2 linked regions of the Homo sapiens genome follow. The protein of the gene in region 1 interacts with the protein of each later gene in a biochemical or structural test. Each region holds a gene or a part of one and is shown on either strand. Other genes may lie near its edges.

Region 1 (4,129 bases):
TTACATATCTTGTGCTTGATACATAGCTTAATAAACACGAATCACATTGAGTGGGTGGCTGCACACATACCCTGATTAGGGGCACAAGAAAATATTAAGGTCCTCAAACCTGTGACTCACGAATGACAGAGGTTTCAACCTCAAGTGGCTATAGCAGCCAGGGAAGTGGATGGAGGGTATAAGACAATAGGGGGTGGTGGAGACTGTGGCAAAATGAGAACATACACTGCTTTTAAAGGAGAAGCATTTCTCAGTTCTGTAGAATTATTTCCATGTGGAAATACAGGCTCAGAGCTGCTAGTCTTTTGTTTCTTTTTTCAAGGGAATCTAAAAGTCCAGGAATTTATATAAAGTATCTTATTTTGTCATGTTCACAATGGTTTTGATTAAGTAAAATTCCATGTGAGTAAAATTAAGCTTATCTAATGGCTACAAACTGGATCTTCAGTCTGTAACCTCTGTAACATAGTCTATTTAAGAAAAGACATATAAACAAGAGCTTGCATATATTAATTCAGTTTAATCATATCAATTCTTAAACAAAAAACTTCCTCCAAGAGACAATAGTTCACAGTAACTGCAAAGCTTACTCACAATTTTTAAAAATATCGCTCATGCTTAGCATTCAAAGAAGATATTATAGAATAACTGTAAAAACTTTTACCAGGAACATCAGCTTCTGACTTGAAAAATTACAAATACTGAAGCATTTTGGTATCAGACACAGTAGTTTTGACATTGTCTGTTCATTTGATGAGTTTCTGGAAGTTTGGAAAATTGTACCTCTATAATTGGATAATGCGCTTATTCTAAACTAAACATTTTCAAATGTAGAAAACAAACTAGCAAGCTACACATACAAAGAAAAGCCCTCTAAGACAAGCTTTCCACATGTTGAATGCCAGCATGTGCACCGTGAATCCTGGAAGACTAGAATTGATACATACGCTTGGCTTGAAGTCTTACACCCCAGGCTCAACGATGGAGTTTGCATTCACCTACACATTAATGACAAACTCTGGGTTAGTATAAGAGAAGCCAGCAAATTCATTTTGGTCCAAGTTCATGATGAAGAGTTTATCAGTGGGGGTCAGTTCCACAGGCTGTCTGGTGAACTCTTTGTCGAAGTTGGAGGTGTCTCTCTTGTCTCTCTGCCAAATGGAAAGTAAACACATTAACACAGCGTAAGAAGAAAGACACAGGACCAAGATACGCCAGTCATTGGGTGGCTGATACCATCTCATGAGCAGAGTCAGAAAGAGCCCTGTGCTGAAAATTTTTAGCAGCTGCACTCCACGCACTGGCTTTCATTTCACATTGTATGTTGGCTTGGGGATAGAAATGTGGTGGAAATTTTCTAAGAAAAGAAGTAAGTCATTGAATGTCAGTTAAGAATTGCCATAAAGTGGTGTGTGTGTGTGTGTGTGTGTGTGTGTGTGTGTGTGTGTGTGTGTGTTGCTGTATTTTCTTTGGCTTTAGGATGAATTGAATTGGAAGCTACTTATTACCATGCTTAATGTTATAGAAATAATCATTAGGTAGAGCGTCCTGGAGAAAACCATTCAGTAGCAGCCCAGGTGGCTAGAAGACCTCTTTCTCTGAAAAGGTGAACTGCTGCCCATCTACTCTGCCCCCAAGAAGGCAGAATGGCCATGTGGAGAAATCAGATCACTGCTTAATGAAAGGAATTGACCACCGTCAGCTCGAAAATCCACCCACAGTCTAGAATTGGGTGTTTATCAGGCAGAAGTTCTCTCCAAAGACATTTTTAGCATGTGTCAACAAACTATAAGAGAGAAAACCCAAAGCTTAAAGGAGGGTGTGTAAGGGGAGCCTTAAAACAAAACAAAACAAAACAAAACAAAAGAAACTCAAAGCAACTCGATTCTCCTAGTAAGTCTGGCATTTCTTTTTTTGTTCAGTAGGGAGGTGGAGAAGAAATTAACCCCCATTTACTAGCAATTGCTTGGGGCAAGTCTCACCAGGGAACATCAGAATGTGGGCTAATAAAGGAATCTGTATGATGCTCCGACCTCTTCAGGGTCCTTGCAAGCCTCTTGTCTTTCCTCATCATCACCACACCCACCTGGGGCAGGTGGAGCTGGAGTCCTCACCTCCTATATATGACATATGAGAGAACCGAGGCACAAGCAGGCAGGGTGGCTTGCCCAAGATTTCAGTGGGTTCCTGATTTTTACCTGACCACATCGCTGCTATGTAGGCCTCATCACAGTCTCTCGGACTGGAGGGACAACCCCATGGCTGTTTTATTACAAGACAACCAGGGAAGAAGGCCTTGTATTCCCTAGTGCCCTGCACATTCCCGGGCTGCAGCCAAAGTTGCCTCAGATTATAAAGGCCAGGGGGTCGGTAAGGATTCACTGACTCATTAGCGTTTGAGCCATCACCACCCAGGCTTTAGGTTTAGCCCCCTAATGGGCACTAGCTGTTAAGGATCTCTCATTGCTGGGTTCACTCTCCTTTGCAAAAGACCTTTTACAAGACTTGCTTCTTTGTGGCTGCTCCCCTGAGATAGGTAAAATGTCTCTATGGAGTTCCCTCCTTACTCTTGCCAAGTCTATGTGAGGGTGTGGGAGTGAGGTGGGCACACTGAACTCAGGAGCACACGTGGGTATGTGTGGCTAGAGTGGGGCAGGCTAAGATGCTGATGGAGCTGTTTCCTGGGTAGGGTCCATCTCTACCATGTCCCACCTGCCCTTTTTGTCTTGTCCTGCTTGCTGTTAGCCTGTGGGGTGCTATAGGAGTTTCCATCCCCCAGGCGCTCGGCATGTTACTTCCGGTGTTCACAACAAAGCTCGAATGCCTCCTCTTTAATATTGTCTGTGCATCTCTCTCCCAATCCCCACAAGTCACACTTTAGCATCCTTTAATTATCTTGATTGCACTTATTGCTTTCAGAAATTGTCTTGTTTATTTATTATTTCTCTCCAAGAAACAATATTCTTGGAGAATTTCTTGGAGAGAAACAATAAACAGGGTCCTCATCTGCTTCTTCACTAGTGTATTTCCAGTGCTAAGAATAGTGCCTGGCACACAGTAGGTTGTTTGTAATTATTTGTGGAATGAAGGAAGACTTGGGATATGCCTCTATCCTTTTTGCAACTTATAATTGTCCCCGAGCCAGAAACTTTACTCTGAGGCAAAACAATGGAATTGATTCCCATTGATCCTAAAGGTCTCCCAAATGGGCCACTGTCCCTTTTGAACCCCTGTATGAACTGAACTGTGTTAGGGCCCCTAAAGGTCTGAGAACTCCAGGACAGTGTGTGAGCTAAAAGGCAGGTATATTTGGAGCTAGAAGACACAAAGCTGCCTTTTTTTTAGGTCTCCCCTGGTCTCATCAACCCTATTTCGCTTTCCCTGCCTGTGGGCCTCTTATCAAAGATTCCCTTCTGACCAGCCCCACCTTGGAAAGCCCTGCCCCGTTTGTTGTGCTGGTGATGGCTAATGCTTCAGATAACCACATGGTCCAGACAGGACTTGCTTTTATGGACTTTGTCCTGTGGGCAGATCCCCAGAGAAAATACTCCTGGATTTTACCGTAGAAGTTGGGAGAGAATAAGCTTCTCTGTTGAGATCATTTCTTTGAGGTTGATAGCATCTGAAGCCATGTGAAAACAGTAGCACTCATCCAAGGAGGGTTATTAATTCTACTGACCTCCCATTAATCCCCCAAGAAGGTCCTTGTTGCTATGGCCCTGTCCTCTCTTCAAAAAGCTCTGTTTCTCAGTTTCTTCTGCACTGGAAATGTGGATAGAAAAGGAAGTGGTAGAAATTCTGACTTTCCATGGAAAGTTTCTCTAAAACAGACTTTGGCTTGAGTATCTATTTCTGCAAACTATTAAACTTTTGAAAAATAATGGCAAGAATTTGGAAAATGTTGAGTGCAGTATTTATAACACTATATTCCTTCCTTCCTTCCTTCTTTTCCTTCCTTCTTTCCTTCCTTCCTTTCTCTTTCTTTCTTTCCTTCTTTCTTTTTCTTCTTTCTTTCCTTTCTTTCTCTTTCCATTCATCCTACATTGTTTTCTAAAGTTGTCTCAGATCATTTGTCAATGGCCTAGTGTTTCTCCATGGTTTTTATCTTCCTGAGAGCATGTCCAAGCAA
Region 2 (3,500 bases), on another chromosome or scaffold:
CATGAGGGGAGGAAAGCAAAGCTGAAATCATCAAAACCTTTGAAATGAACACTGCTTTTTTTTTAGAGAGGGAGTCTTGCTCTGCCACCCACACTGGAGTGCAGTGGCGCAATCTCAGCTCACTGCAACCTCCGCCTCCTGGGTTCAAGCGATTATCCTGCCTCCGCCTCACGAGTAGCTGGGATTACAGGCGCCTGCTACCACGCCCCGCTAATTTTTGTATTTTAGTAGAGACAGGGTTTCACTATGTAGGTCAAGCTGGTTTTGAACTCCTGACCTCAAATGATCCACCCGCCTCGGCCTCCCCAAGTGCTGGGATTACAGGCGTGAGCCACCATGCCCAGCTTGAAATGAACACTCCTAACCGTTTGAGACTTGTCAAAAGAGAATGAGATGTCTGTGGAATGCAGCACTGAAGGACCATTTGACAAGATCCAAATGTTAACAAACACTTTGGGGAAATAAATGAGCATATTGGAAAAGAAGCTGCTCAGACTAAAAATGACTTGGTCACTAAAAGTAACCATCATTTTCTAACAGACTTCTCTTTCTGTACTCAAAATCAATCATACTGGATACCGAGCAGGTTAAAGGTAGGCAGGCCCATGTTTGAGTCCAGGTCCTGTTCTATGACTAGCTAGGCAACCTTAAACCAAACACAGCTTCACTGTGCCTCTCTCTCAGTGTGTTAGAGGGTCACATAACTTCTGATTTGTTTCTTTAAGGGTCACATAACTTTTGATAGTAAGTGTACGAGGTAGGATTCTAAACCAAATTAAGAAAACTGGAAACAGATACAATCACTTACCATCCTGTTTGGGAGATGGTTCTTTGGGTTCCTTCTTATTTTTTCGACCCTCCCGCCCAGAATGGTCTTCTCCTAAATCTATGACAAGTTCGCTCTCTGAATCAGAGTCCAGGCCCAAATGGACTGTTGGGGAATCCGTCTCATCTTTTCCCTTCAGTTTATCCTTTATGGGGTGAGGTGAAGGTTTTGCCTTTTCGGAAAAGTCCTTCTCAGGCTCAGGGCTGGCCTTGTCCTTGACTGCTCCAGGGTCTGCCTTCTCGCTGGCTGGTGACGTGCTTTTCAGCTCCTCTTTAATCTCCACTGGGTTTGTAGGCTTGGGCTTTTTTTTAACAGCAGATGGCTCTTTGTCCATCTGACAACCTTCTTTGTCCTCTGTGTCTTCTGGCTCGTTCTTAGACTTCTGCTCATCATCACTGATATACTCACTATCGCTACTATCTGACTTCTCAGAATCCTCCGAATCGCTGTGCTCTACGGCCGTATAGACATCTTCCGAGATTTCATTTATGCCTAAATTCAAAAAGAAAACCCAGCATGTGGCGTAGTCACAAAATAAAGAGCAGGATGAAAAATGCAAACATTTTTCCACACCAAATGCTGGAATAAGAAAAGCACGTTTCAAATCGCATCACATTGGCCTAAATGGGGCCAGTAATAATCTCAAGTGGCAACTGGCTACGGCTGCCAAGTGGTACTTGCCTTGGGAGAGGGTTTTGGTTGTTAGGAGACACAGGACCTACCAACGGAGATTTTAAATTTATATGGCACTAAACATGTGGTGCCAAATTTTTGCAACGTTGATAACTAATTGGGATTATTGAGAATGAAGAGGGCTGGAAGGGAACAGCAGGGACAAGCTGTTCAAACTGATCCAATTTACAGATTAGAAAACAGAGGCCCAGGGATATCACCTGCCCTAGGACACAAGACAGAGGCCAGGCCAGAACCCCGGGTTCCTGGCTCCCCACCAACACTCTTCCCTTGGGTTTCCAAAGGGTTAAAGTTCTTGATCCTTTGTGTCTAGGCCAAAGAAAATAAGCCAAAGCCTTAAAGCAGAGGTTGCAAACAGCCCACAAGCCACATCTAGCTTGCAGACATGTTTCATGCGAGAGGCACTGGTTTGGCCCACAGGGTATCTTGTCTGCTTTTAATTTATAAATGTGTTGTCCAACTCACAAATCAGGAAATTTCATATAGAAATCAAAGCAGGGGCTTCTGATGAAAGAGCGGAAAATCTAGCCGCTCTGGGTCACCAGCCTGCCAGGCATTGGCTGGAACAGGAAAGCCACTGGCTCCTCTAGGCGGGGGACACACTTGTCTCCAGGTGACCCGGGTGCCCAGCCCTCCCTCTTGTTCCCTGCACTCGTGGAAAGTCAACTGCCACTCGGTGTGCATTGCTCTTCCACTGGTAAAGGAGTCAAGAGAGAAGTCACATACTTCTGTCTCTTTCAAAAGGAAGAAGCACAAACTAGCAGGTGTTTCATACACACAAACAAAAATGGGCAGAAGCACATTTCTAACAATAGTTCCATTTAACCCATTTACGGCTCCTGCCCCCAACCATATGTTATGCCATCATACTGTAGATAATAATACCATATCCTAAACTTTTAGAAAGAGGAAAGAAAACCCAATCAAGTCTGTGCAATCTCTTCATTCTAGAGCAATGGCCACTGTGAATGGTGCCACTGTCCGACTTGTATACACCAAAAAGAAACCTGCAAAAATACCAGAGCCATGAACAGCCCGGGGCATGGGGGATCAGCTGGATCATTGGGGAATGTATCTGCCTCCACCAGGGCTCAATCAAAAACACAAGTCGAGCCAGGCATGGTGGTGCACACCTGTGGTCCCAGCTACTCAGGAGGCTGAGGCAGAAGAACTGCTTGAACCCAGGAGTTCAAGGCTAGCCAGGGCAACACAGGAAGAACACAAGCCAAAATACAAACACCCAGATCTGGTATAATTCTGGGATCCTAGGCTTGTGCTACTGGTAGGTAATGATTGGAAACAAGAAGGAAAAGTGTAAGCACATATGTGATAGGAAAAGCTTGGGTACTGCAGTCCAAAGGACATGAATTCAAATCCTGCTTTTCTGTTTTTATTACTGGTGTGACCCTGAACAAGTTATTTATCTCTCTGAGCCTCAGTTTCTCTATCCGCAAAATGGGACTGATAAAAGTATCAACCTCCCAAGACAATCTATATGCAGTGCTTAGCATAGTGTCCAAGGAAACACTCAGTAAATGGAAATAATAAAATTCTTATTAGCAATAAAAACAAATCAAGAGTTGGGCCAGCTGCATGGAAGGACCCAAGAGGATTATTTAAATGGCATGCCAAATTTCACCCATGCCACCCAATGTCCTCACCAAACAGGCAACCCAACGGGAGCTGTTGTCCTCTGGATAGCCCCAGATGGGTCCCTAACTCTAGCTGCTTTCTCACCTGAAGATGCAGAGCACCCACTGACACTCAGAGGAGCTTGCTCTCCAGAGGCCCAGCCATCCCCCACTTCTTTACAAATGCCCTCCTAGCTTTACTTACTTATTCAACAAACATTCCAGAGCATCTACCATGTGCACAGACCAAGTACCATAGAGAAGGCAAATCCTCATAAAACGGCCTCCCTGCCCTCAAGGAGCTTCCAGTCTAGATTGGGAGGGACACCCCCACACAAAGGGACCATTGC

What was found. Proteins that work in one complex are often made in the same cells at the same time.
Region 2: the proteins of PRKCB (region 1) and ZMYND8 form a complex in vitro, tested with the Homo sapiens proteins (one study listed by BioGRID).

What each region holds. Positions count from the first base shown.
Region 1 is NC_000016.10:24,216,983-24,221,111, reverse strand, and holds the end of PRKCB (protein kinase C beta type), read right to left. Parts: 3' UTR 1,152-4,129; coding exon of another isoform or gene 999-1,151; 3' UTR 501-998; downstream 1-500. UniProt on the Homo sapiens protein: Calcium-activated, phospholipid- and diacylglycerol (DAG)-dependent serine/threonine-protein kinase involved in various cellular processes such as regulation of the B-cell receptor (BCR) signalosome, oxidative stress-induced apoptosis, androgen receptor-dependent transcription regulation, insulin signaling and endothelial cells proliferation.
Region 2 is NC_000020.11:47,245,200-47,248,699, forward strand, and holds part of ZMYND8 (MYND-type zinc finger-containing chromatin reader ZMYND8), read right to left. Parts: intron 1,319-3,500; coding exon 809-1,318; intron 1-808. UniProt on the Homo sapiens protein: Chromatin reader that recognizes dual histone modifications such as histone H3.1 dimethylated at 'Lys-36' and histone H4 acetylated at 'Lys-16' (H3.1K36me2-H4K16ac) and histone H3 methylated at 'Lys-4' and histone H4 acetylated at 'Lys-14' (H3K4me1-H3K14ac).